Linked DNA regions of Homo sapiens: region 1 is linked to region 2. Evidence: fine-mapped QTL for protein levels in blood plasma. A gene starts in region 2. The other region holds a variant in brackets. All regions are shown on one strand. Distances are from middle to middle.

What was found. PIP is the chance, under the fine-mapping model, that this variant and not a neighbour inherited with it causes the effect. The UK Biobank Pharma Proteomics Project read protein levels with antibody pairs (Olink). The fine-mapping took linkage between variants from a reference panel, not from the people measured, so its PIPs are less certain.
Region 1: its variant is fine-mapped to the plasma level of the GLRX5 protein (UK Biobank, PIP above 0.99).

The regions. Positions count from the first base shown.
Region 1 is chr14:95,546,665-95,552,036 of GRCh38, forward strand. No RefSeq gene overlaps it. Among named protein-coding and RNA genes, the nearest start is that of GLRX5, 14 kb to the left of the region's middle. RefSeq lists an enhancer at 1,119-1,994. The variant G/A (reference allele first, on the strand shown) is at 2,185.
Region 2 is chr14:95,531,863-95,537,234 of GRCh38, forward strand. It overlaps GLRX5 (glutaredoxin 5), which reads left to right and starts at 3,188. Exons shown (of 2, transcript NM_016417.3): 1 at 3,188-3,522. The coding sequence starts at 3,228. SNHG10 (small nucleolar RNA host gene 10) reads right to left here and starts at 3,010. Exons shown (of 1, transcript NR_003138.3): 1 at 1,050-3,010. It also overlaps SCARNA13. RefSeq lists enhancers at 1,618-2,407, 2,408-3,197, 2,461-2,920 and silencers at 3,061-3,350, 3,561-3,620.

The DNA of each region.
Region 1 (5,372 bases), 15 kb after region 2:
TTATATTTTGAGAAATCAGGTCCCTTGTTTGTGACAGGAGGGACTGTGCTAAGGGTAGAGGAATGACTTGTGTCGGCAAGGTTTCATTGGTGCAGATTGATTGATTGATTGATTGATTGATTGATTGAAAAAGGGTCTTGCTCTGTTGCCCATGCTGGCGTGCAGTGGCCTGATTATGGCTCACTGCAGCCTTGACCTCCTGGGCTTAAGCAATCCTTCCCACTCAGCCTCCTGAATAGCTGAGACTTCAGATGTGCACCACAACACCTGGCTAATTTTTTTATTTTTTAGAGACAGGGTCTCTGTGTTGCCCAAGCTGGTCTTGAACTCCTGGCTCAAGCGATCCTCCCACTCTGGCCTCCCAAAGTGTTAAGATTACAGGCATGAGCCACTGCGCCCAGCAGAAACAAATTTAAATGTGAGGTGAGAAAGCTTTCATGTGGGTTCCTGAGAGCCACCGACAGGAAAAGATATATATTAGGGGATGGCCACACAAAACACTGATTGTTTTAAAAATTTAACATTCCACTTAAGAATTGTTTAGTAAATCTAAAAAGCAGCTTTAAATTGTGCCTAAGAACCATATAATAGCTACTATGAAGCAGAGCAGAGGAATGGTGAAGAGAAAAGCCATTTTAAGGTCCAGGGGCTTACAGAGACGCATGGGGTGACCAGGTGGACTCTTGTAAAGCCACATTCCTGTCTTATTTCCTGAGAGTAGCATCACTTTAGGTCTGAAAGCTATGTGGGCATTTTGCGTGAGGGGAGCATTGTTTTCTTGGCGGTTGCCCTGGGAGCCCAGTGCAGGTGAGCTGAGGGCAGAGTCTCCCTTAGGGCAGAGATGCCACTGAAGGTGCACCTCACCTCAAAGATCCCTATCCTGGATTCAGTCAGAATAGCCATGTTATTCTCCTCCTTGTGAACCTCCCGGGGCACCCGGTTGTGTCACAGTGAAGTCTCTCCTATCCCAGAAAGCCTTCCCTGACCCCAGACGGAACAGACCCTTTAATCCACTCTACAGCCCTGTTCTTTGTTCATCACTCCAGGACCTAACTGCCTGTTACTTGGCTTTATTCAGATCCCCTCTGGCCAGCATACAGAGTGCCCCAAAAAATACATTTAGAAAAGAGTGAAGAATTTCCTTTCTTCATTCCTTTTGGATTAGTCACAAGAAATGTTAGGCTATTACAGGTTACAGCCTCGCAACACCGCAGTAGCTAAGAGCCGGGACTCAAGTCACCCTCCCTGGGTTTGCATCCCAGCACTTGCTGGGTGTGCTACTGACCTCAGACGACTTAGTAACCTCCCTTCCTGCTTAAGTGGGCAAATAGCAGATGCCACCGACCTCAGGCGTGTTACAAGCTTAGATGACAGCACCCTGTCGAGACCATGGCTCATAATGAGCTCTCACTGTAAGTTGACCTTGACAGTTAATGTTGGATTACACCTGGACTTGGTACCGCGCTGTGGTATCCACCACCGTTCGGAGGGTTTAAGGGAGCAGAGAAGGACAGGCTGATGAACACAACATCGTTCATGTTTGGTTGCCCCTGGAACATAGAGACTCATTGTTGAAGGCAAAGGACAGATCTAATCCTTGTGATGATCTATCAGTGGACTGCCCAGCAGCCCTAGGGGACGGCAGGGCCTTCAGCCAGAAAGAATTCCCTGTAAAGTATCTTTCCTACGATTATAGTTTGACTTACTGCCACCGAGTTTTATTTTTAAAAATACTGCTTCTATTTCATACCAAAGTGGAGAGTCTTTTCTGAACCGATATGTTAGACAGTTATTGTGTTGAGTTATGCTTCAAAGAATGCAGTTTAACCTTGAGCTAATTCTAATTTAGCAGTAGCAAGGATTGTGACACTGGGTTCTACTGTACCTCATTAGCCATTTTCACAGGGATTCGTTTTGCCAGAAAAAGGAGGTAGAAATGTTCGCCGGTTCCTAGGAAATTTGGTGAGCAAATATGGAAAGTATTTCCAGATTATTGATGTGTCTTCACTAGTCCTGAGCAAGCTATCAGCTTTGATCATCACCACCACCGATGAAGCAACCTTCCTGGGGAGGCCATGCTGAGCCCGAGTCTATGGGGACCTCTTCTGGCTCCAGACCCAGGCTGGGCAGAGGCTGAGACTTCAGCTGGGTGTCAGATACCCCTCACCCCTTGCCCTGATCTTG[G/A]GGGCGTTAGGGTGCTGTCAGAGTCTGACATAGGTATTAAAATATTTCAAATCTCAAGGAGAACTTCAGAGTTCTTCAGTACATTTACAAGTAAATTGTAATCCTGGGAAACTAGCAGCACACTTCCTGTTATTCTGGCTTCTTAAATTCTTTTGTTTTTTGTTTGTTTTTGAGATGGAGTCTCTCTCTGTTACCCAGGCTGGAGTGCAATGGCGCGGTCTCGGCTCACTGCAGCCTCTGCCTCCTGAGTTCAAGCTATTCTCCTGCCTCAGCCTCCTGAGTAGCTGGGATTACAGGCACCTGCCACCATGCCCAGCTAATTTTTTGTATTTTTAGTAGAGACGGGGTTTCACCATGTTGGCTAGGCTGGTCTCAAACTCCTGACCTCGTGATCCACCCGCCTGGGCCTCCCAAAGCCCTGGGATTACAGGCATGAGCCACCGCGCCTGGCCTTTAAGTTGTTTTTTAACTTTTTTCCATGATTCCTTAGTAAAGTCTCCTTAAAATGATTCTTGGGAGAGCAGAGGGCAAGGGGCAGTGTCAGTTACACCTGACTAAGTTACTTCAGTTCAGGTGCACTTCGTACAAAGTGTGGTGGGATGTCCATGTCCTAATCCCTGGAATGTGTGACTGTGTTACCTGGGGTAAGTTTAAGCTGTGTTTAAGTTCAGGATCTTGAGATAGAGAGATTGTCTTGGATCACCTGGGTGGGCTTAATGTAATCACAGGTGTCCTGGGCAGGAGGGAAGCAGAGGTTGGAGTGATGTACTCTGAAGAGGGCGGAAGGGGCCACAGGCCAAAGATCGCAGGCAGTCTCTAGAGCTGGAAAAGCCAAGGAAACGGATTCTCCCCTGGAGTCTCCAGAAAGAACACAGGCCATGATTTTAGCCCAGTGAAAGTCATTTTAGACTTCTGACCTCCTGCCCTGTAAGATTAAAAATTGGTGTTAAGCCACTAAGCTTGTCATTTGTTACAGCGGCAAAAGGAGACTAATACACCTGGCTGCCTGGATTTTATGGTGGATGCTTACTTGGTATAAGCAGACAGGGGGAAGGGTCAAACAATTATTGAGCATTTAGATCCGTAATTTGTTTCTCACCAAAGATCTGCAAATGTGGGATATTCTCTCTTCCTTTCAGATGATGACACAGAGACTGGGAGGGGGTCAGGTTACTTGTCCAAGGTCACTACCTGGTGGAATTTGAGCTGTGATCAGATCCATATTGTAGCACCCTTCGGAGGGCCGGCTCAGTGAGTGCAGCCGCTTAGTGCAGCTCTGGCTGTGGTGTCCAGAGTGTTCGCCCTGCAGCCCTGAGAAGAACTGAATTTGAGCTTCAGTTGCCTGTTGAAAGAGCCAGGGAGGCCAGGAATTTTGGAAGTTGCCCCTGGCCATCCACTATCAAGTATGTGAAGGAAGCAGAGGGTCCCACCTCTGAGGTCAGACAAATGGAAGGTGAATGCAAATGATGCCTCCTTGCAAATGATGCCAGGGAAAGCCTCCTGGGCCCCGTGTGTTGTGCGGACAGGTGGCCAGGCCAGAGGTCCCACTGGACTTCACTCTGAAATTCCAGACAGCAGGAAGTAAACAAAGTGCTTTACGAGCGAGTTCCCGCGGTCTGCTGGTCTTTCCCTGCACTTCCGTCCGACCTCGGTCACAGCCCTGGGTGGGGTCAGATATTTCTACCCATACTCAGGGCCACCTGTTGCCCCAAGTTCTCACTTCCTGGCAGTGTCCCTCTGCTAGCCCTTGCTGCTGCCCCCACCTTCCTCTGTCTGCCCGCCACCCCCCAGCCTTTTCCTTGGTCACAGTTGTCCTTTTGTTACCTGCGGTTATCAGAAACATGGTCAAATAGGGTATAAGCTTTTAGTATCCCATTCATTTGAAATTTTAACCTCGTTTTTAATAAAACAATGCATGCATATAATTAGTCAAATGATACTTTAAAAACTACAGTAATAATGAAAAACAGCACTCTCCTGCCTTTTGATCCATGGGTCCTGCTCTCTATAGGAAACAAATTTCCATTTCTTAAGCAGTTTCTTCTGTTTCCCTCCATATTTCATTTTCCTTTCTCTTCCTTTCTTTTTTTGTTTTGTTTTGTTTTTTGAGACAGGGTCTCACTCTGTTGCCCAGGCTGGAGTGCAGTGGTGCAATCACGATTCACTGTAACCTCGACTTCCCAGGCTCAGGCGATTCTCCCACCTCAGCCTCTCAAGTAGCTGGGAATACATGTGTGTGCCACTACGCTCAGCTAATTTTTTGTATTTTTAGAAGAGATGGGGTCTCACTGTGTTGCCAGGCTAGCCTCAAACTCCTAGGCTCAAGAGATCCACCCACCTGCTGGGTGGACCCCAAAATGCTGGGATTACAGGCGTGAGCCACTGCACCTAGCCAATATTTTTTAATGTGCTTATATTGCTATTTCTTTGCTAATAAATCAGATATTATCTAATCTCTTTGCCATTTTGATAGATAAGAATGCTCTCATATAATCATCAATCTACCCTACTTCTCACTGTTCCCTATACAATTAGCGCAATCATCAGTCTTTACATTATTATTGACAATATATATGTTAGTGAAATAAATATATATAAATAAGCAAATGCTGTATTCCTTTTTTTAACTTTTATCTCCATTTATTAAAAATTGCCTTTTTTTAGTTGTTTATTTTCTATTTGATTATTTTGTATTGGATTTTTATACAGTGCACAGGCATCTGCCAAATACCTGTCAATAAAGTTTTTCAACAGAAGCATCAGATAACTCATAGTAGCCCTTGCCCCCTGCCAAGCTCCCTCCTGGAATCCTCCACCCTCCAGCTGCCCTCTGATGTCTATCATCATCCTTGCTCTTCCTGTGTTGAGTTTTCTGTTCCCTGTGTCCCGCATCTTGGTCTTTGTGCTTTATTCCTTTGCTCTGCTGGAGCACATCCTGCCAAAGCTTCCTAAAGAAGATGCATGGGTGGTTCACTTTTTGAGACCAGGTCGTTGGAAAAGGTTTCCTTACTCCCATACTGTTACACAACTTGGGTCTGCCTGCTCAGCACAGTAAGACCAGATATCCACACTGAGGCTTCGCAGCAGTAGAAAGGAAGCCATTTATTTGCAGGGCACCATGCAGGGAGGACCAGGAAGCAAATGCTCAAATCCTGACTCCCCTGATGGCTTGTGGGTAAGGGTTTTTA
Region 2 (5,372 bases):
AAATGCCAAACTTTATGCAAAAGTCTGATACTTTGGACGAAGTATTTTGAATACTGTTTTCTTTGCTTCTTAAGATCACTGATGTTTGGTGCTAAGTATTTCACTATATTTTGGGTTGTTTTATTAAAAATTTAAATTTAGATGTATTGTTTCAATTTCTTTGGTTCAGATACATGATCTGTTTCCTGCCCTTGCTCATGCTATCAAAATAGCTCCTTGAAAGAGCACCAACATGCTTTTCCATATCCTTAGCATTTCACACACTGTATGTTCTTATCATATTCTACAAAAACACGGCAACTTCACTATGATTTAGCAAAACACAGGCTTTGTACTCTTCCTTCTCAAGGATTACTCTTAATCTTTAATGGCAGCTGCATTCTCAACTTAATACAACGTTCAACAAATAAAAAAGACAACTGCTTCTGAGCCCAATATTATACATTAGGTAAGGAACACGATACTCCTCATTACTGTTCTGTCTCAGGATATAAGTTTGCAAATTCTTCTCCTGATCTCAGTCAACATAAAAGCAGAATTACAGTTTAGAGTGGGCAATGAGAAAGGTGGAATCAAAATAGACACAGGGAAGGCCATAAAGAGTTCGCAAGCATAAATGCCTGATAGCAAAAACGATCACAGAAGATTCCAAAACCACAATCCTGCACAAAGGCCATCTCAATCTTACACAAAAAATACTTCTGCAATGCCTGCCGAGCACCTGCCTGTCCAACCTGGGACTGGTGTCACCTTTGTTACTGATCCTTGTAGTCAAAAATAATTATCTCAAAACAATTATGTAACCCTCCTCATTTTTCCTTTAAAGACCTTTGTCTTCCTCTATCTCCCAGGATACACACAGTTAACTATCGCATGCATTTTCTCATTGCAGTGCTCTATTCCTGAATAAATGCCATTTTCTTTTAGAGAGCCTCTCTCTGTTCGTTATTTAAGTTGACAGCAACAAACAGTTTAGGTTTTTGGCAACAAATCACCAATATTTACTTAAAAACAAACAAAACACTTACAACACAGGTAGGAACAACAGGTTATTTTGGAAAGAGTTTAATATATTCTCTATTGTTAAGTGCACCAGATGCTGGACTTCTGAAACAACAATTATGCTTCTGCATAATAGCTTTTTCTACATATTTCTGTTCATGTTGCTTGTTCCTCTGATTTACCTGGAATCAATGAATCTGAAAAACAAAAAGATTCTTTAAGCACCTGGTAAATTTCAGGTCCCACATTAGAAAATGAGCAATCATCAATAATATTGATGGGGGTGAAAATATGACATTGAGACTTTCGGGTAATGTGCCGAGTTTACTTTCATAGTTTACTAGGCTCAGGTTTCATGCCGAAGGATTATTTGAAAGACTCACTCACTGACATGATTTTCTGATTTTAAATTCGAACACTCTCAAAGCATAAACAGATCACCTCCAGCAACATTGTAAAAAAATACTCAAAGTTTAAAAAAAAAAAAGTAACTTGTGGCAGTACTTAGTGTTCAACAGAAAACACTCCATCTGCTAAACAATATCTCGACTGCAAAGCTTCTCTTACTGTTGGCGGATAGATAATGACATAGCCCAGTCATTATCACCGTGGCAACAGTGACCAGAAACTATCAGAGGAAAATTGCACATGGAACAGCTGGCTCTCGAGCAGGCATGCCTCAGCTTCCTCTGGAGTATGCTTTTTCTGCAAGTCTGGTGTGCTCGAGGGTACCACCAACCCTGTGCGGCTCCAAGACTACAGATTATGTAGCAAGTCCACTGGTCCTGCTCTTCCGGATTTATTCTTCCCGCCAATAGGAGCACTTACCACGTTCCAAGCATCGTCCTAGGCACTGAGGATACAGCAGTGAATAAAACTGAGTGCTGGGTAGGAAGTCAATAACCAAGCTAGTAAATAACTGTATATTGTCAAGCACTGGTAAGTACAAGGGAGAGCAGAGCAAGCAATGGGCCTGATGAGGCTTGCTTTGTCTCCTCTGCACTCCCACACTGCTTTGTATCTGCTTCTCATTTCTCACGATGGGTCCAAGCTTTGGGCACCAGGTCTCCCTGGACATTCCGCGCTGGCACTGCGCCTAGCACCCAGCGGCTGCTCAGGAAACGTTTGTCGAACGAACGAATTCACTTCTTAGTTCCCCATTCAACAAACCTTTCCTGATCCTAGGCCCAACAGGTTAAAAGGCTGGAGGGCCAACGAGGCTGGAAACTCAGAGGCGGCCGGGGGCGGTGGCTCACGCCTGTAATCCCAGCACTTTAAGAGGCCGAGGCAGGAGGATCCCTTGAAGCCAGGAGTTCGAGACCAGCCTGGGCAAAAAAGTGAGACATCGACCCCCCGCCCCCGCCGCCAATTCCGTCTCTACAAAAAGGAAGAAAAAAAAAAAAAACCCAGAGGAAATCACACAGGCAAAAGCGCTTTACAAATTTTAAAAATGAAAACTGTTCTAGAGAAATAATCGCGCGCCGGAGGCGGAAGCCCCAGAGCCTCAGCTCCCACGTGGCGGCGGAGCCAGGGAAAGTCCAGGAGCCAAGGCTACGGCCCGAGCGCTGGAACCCCGGTCAGGCTCCGGCTCCCCGCCACGACGAACTGCATGCGGCCGCGGCGCTCCGGAGGCGCCCGGGGACGCTCACCTAAGCTGGGAGAGGCGGATACCCGCCCGGCCTAGCCCCGCTACCTCCCAAGAGACCAACACGACAAGCGCGCGCCCACCGCATTGCCATGGCAATTCAACCGCCGCTGACACCGGAACCGGAAACTTCATCAGGAGGTGACCCCTTCCCGGCGTTCCGCGGAACGGGCGAGTCCCGCGCCTCTCCCAGTTGTCTCGGCGTAGTCCAGCTGGCCTCATTGGCTCACAGGAGGAAAGTCGTCTTCCCTCTTGTTTTGCCTCTCGTTGCCCTGCAAGCGTGACCCTGATGGACATCCAGTCTCTCCAATTAACTAACAAAGCGGTTGCCGACGACCAATAGTAAGGCAGTAGGATGAGGCTCCGGCATAAGGCCCACCTCCTACCTGCCGGGCGGGACGAGCAACATGATTGGTGGAATCGAGTAATTACTGATCAGTATTGTCCAATCACGGAGGGCAGTTTAGAGCCGGCCCAATGAGGGCCTCCAGGGGGCGGGTCGGACTGCCGCGGGCCGGGGAGCGCTCTGGGTGGCCAGCTGTGGGCCCGGGCCGTCGTGGGCTCCGGCTTGCGTGCGGAGATGAGCGGGTCCCTCGGCCGAGCTGCGGCGGCTCTGCTCCGCTGGGGGCGCGGCGCGGGCGGCGGTGGCCTTTGGGGTCCGGGCGTGCGGGCGGCGGGCTCGGGCGCGGGCGGCGGCGGCTCGGCGGAGCAGTTGGACGCGCTGGTGAAGAAGGACAAGGTGGTGGTCTTCCTCAAGGGGACGCCGGAGCAGCCCCAGTGCGGCTTCAGCAACGCCGTGGTGCAGATCCTGCGGCTGCACGGCGTCCGCGATTACGCGGCCTACAACGTGCTGGACGACCCGGAGCTCCGACAAGGTCAGGCCAGTGTGCCGGGCAGGCGCCCTCCGCCCCGGGCCCAGGAGCATCGCTGCACGAGGCCGAGGGGTTCCGCCGCGCCGGGCTGGGGAGCGGGGCTCCATCCGCCGGGGTCTGTCTGAAGGTTCGAGCCGGGTTAGGGCGAGGAGTACTGCCCTGGAGTAGAGTCTGGGCTGAGGGTGTAGTTGATTTCACTGGGTCTTGAGGATCTGGGGCTCTGTACTGTTGCCAACTTGAGCAGTAGGTAAAGTCCTAAAGGTTCACTTATCCTCACTTCGAGCTAATATAGGCGTTTCGGGGCGATTTGTCAATGACTGACTCGGAGGAGGGTGGCCCGCTGCCTGACTGCTCTGCACGGTTAGGAAACTCATAGTAAGGACCCACTGTGAGATAGGTACTTTCGCGGACACTTTGGGGAGGTTGGAAGCCATTGGCCTACTCGTGGGTAAGGTCTAGGGCTGTCGATGGTGGGGAGAGGGCTGAGGTTGCCCTTGAGGCTAGTGAGGTCGGAGGCTGATCTCGCTTGGCTCACGGCTCAGGGTGTCAAGCATCATCCTCTGTGGTTGCTACAAGCAAAGGGTTGGGACAGCTGTCGGCTGACCTTAGTCGGGATCTATGTTGTCGGGGAAGAGTCATGACATTTGGCTTTAGATACTCAAGCACAGGGCTGAATTTATGTGGGCCAGGGCTTGGAGAGGTTTGTGGGGAAAAGAAGCAGCCCTGGCTCCTGGGCCCTGGGCTAACTCACTGGCTCAGCCTTGGAGCCCAGGGGGCCAGGGCACCAGGGACCAGATGGATTAGGCCGGGAGAGGGAAGGCTGCAGCTAATAAGCATCTTTTCCAAGTACTCCACGTGCATTCGCCAGTCTTATCTGAGTAGGGGAGGAGGAAGAGGCCAGGCACAAGGGCCTGCTCCTTGGCCAGGATGGTCAGGGTTGGTGGAAAACTGGGAAGGCTGTACCTTTTCCTTCTAGAGAGTGACTTAGGATACCTGCATCCCAGTTAGAGACTTTCAGTGACTGAGTCCCTGCATGTCCCTAGCTAAAAAGAGGTGCCAGTTGTGTGCTAAAAATAGGTGCCAGGTTCTCTGTTACTCTAAATTCGAAATTACTAATCATAGTCATTGCTTACAATGATGAGACAGGCTGGTGTTTGGAAAAGCTTTGGGTTGACATCCTCTTCTGTGGCTAATCAGGTGTAAAACTTAAGTCACTCACCTGCATTTGAGGATAATGAGACAATTTGGCAAAGTTTGTGTTAGGAAGCCAAAGTAAAAATTATAGAAAGTGTGTATTATTTTACCTGGCACAGAAAGCACCCGGTAAATGGTAGCTGGCTTCGTATTAGCACTTGATGGTTTTCAAATGTATTTTTTCCCAGATTATCTAGTCCTTAAAGACTCTTGGGGATAACTGATCCTCCATTTGCTGTAGGTGATAGTGGTGGTGGGTGGGACCTAGAAAGCATGTTGAGTTGAGGAGTCGAGAGGGCAGGTTCAAATTACCACGTATATGTAATATTACCATGTGTTATTCTCATGACCCTTTTGTCTTCCTTGTCAACTAGTATGCCACCAGTTACTGGGCTCAGTTTTATCATGTGCAAGGCAAGGGACCTGCAGTCTTCCTTCGAAGACAGCTTCTCTGCTTAAAAGAGGAGTAACTATTTTGCAGTCTTTTGACAGAGACCTTGCAGGGAGTCCCCTGCAAATTGCCAATATGGCACTAGTAAAAAAGTGGTGTTGTTATCTCGCTTAGTATCATGTTTCGAGGGTCTTTGGTTTGTGAATTTATTTTCTCTTGTTTAATATAACTGGAAATGAGATATGCTGGAATATAGCTAGTAAACGGA